Linked DNA regions of Homo sapiens: region 1 is linked to region 2. A link means that fine-mapping ties the variant in region 2 to the expression of a gene that starts in the linked region. Tissue or cell type: skin. Region 2 holds a variant in brackets; the other region holds the start of a gene. All regions are shown on one strand. Distances are between the middles of the regions.

Region 1 (2,607 bases), 110 kb after region 2:
AGAGATGTGCAGGCAAAGCAAATCACAGCCTTACCAGCTGCAGATTCAGTACACGGCAGTCTATGTCTACATATTCATGGCACACTGGAGCCCTCCCCTGACTGTGCTCATACATGCATTGATATGGGAAGCAGAACTCTCTCACTGGGGAAATAATCTATGTGCCTAAGTTAGACAAGAGCCACATTTGGACCAGCGGATGGCATCACATCTGGTATGGATCGCTAACCTCAGTGTGATTTGGCCCAGCCTGGATTATTTATGATTCATAAAAGTCCCACTGGACCCCAGCATAGTCCAAGACCACATAACAAAAAACCATGGGATTAAAAATCTGTATTTCATTGCAAGACCCCCATGGCAAATTAGTAATGCTATGATTGGTTTTCGAGAAGCCAAGAGTGAGGAGAACTAACTATGATCACTCCCTCAAGAAACCCAGCATAGAGGGCAAACCGAATCATGTGTTCAGCCAGGCTATGCAGTCATATTCTGAAGCTCTGTCACCATTTCTAATCTGAAAGCAGTGTCTAAAATTAAACCTAAATAATTTGAAAGCCATTTCTTTACCTGGAAGTCTCAGCTGAGTCCTTGTTCCTCAGATCCCCTAATGGTTTCTGACATCATGTGTTGAAATGACTACTGTACATGAACGCTATCAGGTATTTGGTCTGTTAGCCCCTTTCCCCATATTATTATGGTTTTTTAAAGAAAGCTACACTTTTAGAGAAACGCTGCTTCTTCTTAAGCATCAAGATTTAAGCGTTTCTTCAGGACTCCCTAGAGCTGTGACATAACACTTTGTAATCGAGCTTTCTAATCAGCATAGAAAAGGCAAAAGGGGTCGCAGGGCCACCAAAAATGCTACCTGGCCAAGAAAACGAAGACCCAATATCCTCCCCCAGTGCAAAGGCCCTAGATCTGGCTTTCTCATCCTCCTTAGAAAATATACTGCTGTTTAATTTGTGAATTAGAGCAAATTTCTTACCCACCTCCAGGGAGGATGAAATGCCCAGTCTCGGAGGAAGCTTCTGCCAGACCCTTGGAGCTTGTCAATTGTCCCAGTTCACTTTCTCCCTGGATCTGACTTCTAAGAACGCAAGCAGGACCTCAGGCAGCCAAAGCATCTTCTCCTCAAACCCCCTTTTCAGTCTGAACCCTTCCTGAAGCTGGCAACAGACTCAAGCCGAGCTGCTCCACATTCCCTCAGGGAAAACAGCACTGCTGGATCCAGACTCTGCTGGGGAATTCACCAAGCAAGAGAAAAAAAGTATGACTTCTACTCTTCCTCTAGATCAGCCTGAGTGCTCAGATCGCCTTCCGGAGGACCCCCAGTTTCCTCTTAACTCCCCTTCTTCATGACAATCTGAAGGAAGAAGTCATAGACTCCAGCCCAGCGTCACCAGCTGATCCTGAGCCAGACCCGGGGTGACTAGTCAGCTGCTCACAGAGCTCAAGCCACTGAACCAGGAAATGTGCTGCTTGGTCAAAAAATAATAATAACTCTCGGTGGCGCTGCTGGTGGTGCCTGAGAAGTCGCTGTTGCAGTGCTTGCATCCTCCGCATGCTAATGAAGCTGTGATGTCAGCAAGTCAGTCACGGCATCTGGACGTCCCATCCTGCTGCCCAGTGCTGAGATTTATTTACATGTAAATTAGCCTTGCCTTCCAAATCAATAATCCCCAAGCCAGGGAGAGGGGAAGGAAGCCTTTGCTGGATGCAAAGGCCCAGCTACGTAACCTCCAAATGAGCATGAAAAAAATCACATATAAGAAGAGAGGCTTTAAAGACACATGCCTATTTTTTTTCTTCTTAAAAGCTGTGCTCTTAGGTGCCAAGGTTCAGATCTGGGCACAATTATCAACCTGAGCGCCTGTTTCAGATTATATGCTGCACCAACCTAGGAGTGGAATCAGAGCACTCTTTTTTTAATTAAATGCTGTGTCAAGCCTTCAAAAATGCCTCTCCTTTTTTTTTTTCTTTCTCTTCTCTCTTCAACTTTCATTTTCGGGTGTTGCTTGTTTTTTGGCCTGAGACTATGTCACCTTTGAGTTTTTGTGCACCTCGAAATAAAGCACAAGTGACTCCTTTCCTCACGTGCTTGGGTGGTGAGTCAGTCAGCTGCCCTTTAACCCCTTACCCCAATTCCAACTGCATGCAGAAGAAGACAAAGCATAAACCTTCCCAGGGCATCTGAAGACCCTGAGACCCTCAGAGAGCATTGCTTCCATCTCCTCATTTTACAGATTAGAAAATGGAGACAACTGGAGAAAGGACTTTTCTAAAGTCACACCAGGATTTCAGCAAGGATGGGTCAGAATCCACATTTCCTAGACCTCAGATAGAGCTTTTGTTGAATACCTTTGGGGTCTCCGAGCTCCATTTTTATACACCACTAGGCGGCCTAACCAAGCAATCTGGAAGAAAGGAATCTATACATTTGGAGAGCCCTGTGTTCAAATCCTGCCTTTCCTTCCTGCTAGCAGTGTGATCTTAGGCAAGTAACTTAACTTGTGGGATCTTCAATAACCTCATCTGTACCATTCACTCATTCAATAAATATTTACTAAGCACGTACTCTATGCCATGCACAGCTCTAAAGGCTAG
Region 2 (2,761 bases):
ACAGGGAGGTAGGCACCCCTGCATCTGCTAGCACTGTTACAGCTGCCACACCTTGGCACCTCCAGTGCAGTGGACTCCAAATGTCGCAGAGCCAGATAACAAAGCTGGGGCCCAATACAAGTCCCCCAGAGTAAGAGCACAGTCTAGCAGTTGGGAGCTGGGTGTTGGCCCCCTAAAATCTCCCCAAAATGAAGCCAGTCAGCTGAATCCATCTCATACCAAAATCAAACCCTCAAAGTCATCAAATAGGATTAAGAAAAAAAAAAAAACCATGCAAAGGTCAGCAACCTCAAAGATTGAAGGTAGATAAGCCCACAAATTTGAGAAAGAATCAGGGCAAGAATGCTGAAAATACGAAAAGCCAGAGTGCCTTCTTTCCTCCAAACAACCGCATCACCTTTCCAGCAAGGAATCATAACTGGGCTGAGGCTAAGATAGCTAAAATAACAGAAATGAAATTCAGAATATGGATAGGAATGAAGATCATTGAGCTCAGTACACTGAAACCCAATGCAAGGAAGCTAAAAATGATGATAAAACAATGCAGGAGCTGACAGACAAAATAGCCAATATAGAGAAAAACATAACTGACCTTAGAGAGCTAAAAAAACCCATTACAAGAATTTCACAACACAATCACAAGTATTAATAGAATAGAGTAACTGGAGAAAAGAATCTCAGAGCTTGAAGACTGGCTTTTTGAAATAAGACAGGCAGACAAGAATAGAAAAAAAAAAGAATGAAAAGGAATAAACAAAACCTTTGAGAAATATGGGATTATGTAAAGGGACCAAATCTATGACTGATTGGTGTCCTTGAAAGAGATGGGGAGAATGGAACCAACTTAGTAAACATACTTCAAGATATCATTCATGAGAACTTCCCCAACCTAGCTAGAGAGGCCAACATTCTTAAGATACTTCAAAAGAAGATTATCCCCAGTACACATAATCATAAGATTTTCTGAGGTCAAAATAAAAGAAAAAAATGTTAAAGGCAGCTAGAGGGAAAGATCAGGTCATCTACAAAAGGAAGCCCATCAGACTGACAGCAGACTTCTCAGCTGAAACCCTGTAAGCCAGAAAAGAATGGGGGCCAATATTCAACATTCTTAAAGAAAAGAAATTCCAACCCAGAATTTCATATCCGGCCAAACTAAGATTCATAAGCAAAGGAGAAATAAGATCCTTTTCAGACAAGCAAATGCTGAGGGAATTTGTTCCCACTAGACCTGCCTTACAAGAGCTCCTGAAGGAAGTACTTAATTTGCAAAGGAAAGACCATTACCAGCCTCTGTAAAAACACACTGAAGTACCCAGACCAGTGTCACTGTAAAGAAACTACATAAACAAGTTTGCAAAATAACCAGCTAACATAATGATGACAGGATTAAATCTACACATATCAGTACTAACCTTAAATGTAAATGGGCTGAATGACCCAATTAAAAGACACAGTGTGGCAAGCTGCATGAAGAACCAAGACCCATTATTATGCTGTCTTCAAGAGACCCATCTCCCATGCAGACACACACAGGCTCAAAATAAAGAGATAGAGAAAAACCTACC[A/T]AGCAAATGGAAAACAGAAAAAAGCAGGAGTTGCAATCCTAGTTTCTGACAAAACAGAGTTTAAGCCAACAAAGATCAAAAAAGACAAAGAAGGGCATTATGTAATGGTAAAGGGTGGAATTCAGCAAGAAAATCTCACTATCCTAAATATATATGTTCCCAACACAGGAGCACCCAGATTCAAAAAGCAAGTTCTTAGAGACCTTCAAAGAGATTTAGACTCCCACACAATAATAGTGGCAGGATTTACAGCCCCACTGACAATATTAGACAGATCATCAAGAAAAAATTAACAAAGATGTTCAGGACCTGAACTCCGCTCTGGATCAAGCAGACCTGATAGATATCTATAGAACTCTCCACCCAAAAAAACAGAATACACATTCTTCTCATCACCACATGGCATATATTCTAAAATAGATCACACAATCAGAAGTAAAATTCTCCTCATCAAATGCAAAAGAACTGAAATCATAACAAACAATCTCTCAGACCACAGCACAATCAAATTAGAAATCAAGACTAAGAAATTCACTCAAAACCATACAATTACATGGAAATTGGATAACCTGCTGCTGAATGACTTTTGGGTAAATAATGAAATTAAGGCAGAAATGAAGAAGTACTTAGAAAGTAATGACAACAAAGATACAACATATCAGAATCTTTGGGATGCAGCTAAGGCAGTGTTAAGCAGGAAACTTATAGCACTGAAATGTTCACATCAAAAAGTTAGAAAGATCTCAAGTTAACAACTTAATATAAAAACTAAAAGAACTAGAGAATCAAGTGCAAAGAAATCCCAAAACTAGCCGAAGACACAAAATAATCAAAATTAGGGCTGAACTGAAGGAGACTGAGACACAAAAAAGCCATTCAAAAGATCAATGAATCCAGGAGCTGGTTTTCTTGAAAAAAATAATAAAATAGATAGACCACTAGCTAGACTAATAAGAAAAGAGAGAAGATTAAAATAAACACAATCAGAAATGACAAGAAGGATATTATCACTTACCCTACAGAAATATAAACAACCATCAGAGAATATTATGAACACCTCTATGTACATAAACTAGAAAATCTAGGAGAAATGGATAAATGTCTGGACACATACACCCTTCCAAGAATGAACCAGGAAGAAATTGAATCCCTGAACAGACCAATAATGAGCTCTGAAATTGAGGCAGTAATAA

Alleles and levels. Positions count from the first base shown, and alleles are read on the strand shown. Sizes are in standard deviations (SD) of each study's normalised expression.
As copies of T replace A in region 2, the expression in skin of the gene that starts at base 1,549 in region 1 goes down (moderate effect, 0.47 SD a copy in TwinsUK).

What was found. PIP is the estimated chance that this variant, and not a neighbour inherited with it, causes the effect.
Region 1: it holds the start of PRICKLE2, and the variant in region 2 is fine-mapped to the expression of PRICKLE2 in skin (TwinsUK, PIP 0.95).

The regions. Positions count from the first base shown.
Region 1 is chr3:64,223,918-64,226,524 of GRCh38, forward strand. It overlaps PRICKLE2 (prickle planar cell polarity protein 2), which reads right to left and starts at 1,549. Exons shown (of 8, transcript NM_198859.4): 1 at 993-1,549. RefSeq lists a silencer at 1,436-1,730.
Region 2 is chr3:64,113,943-64,116,703 of GRCh38, forward strand. All of the region lies in intron 7 of PRICKLE2 (prickle planar cell polarity protein 2), which reads right to left. Among named protein-coding and RNA genes, the nearest start is that of PRICKLE2-AS2, 12 kb to the left of the region's middle. The variant A/T (reference allele first, on the strand shown) is at 1,569.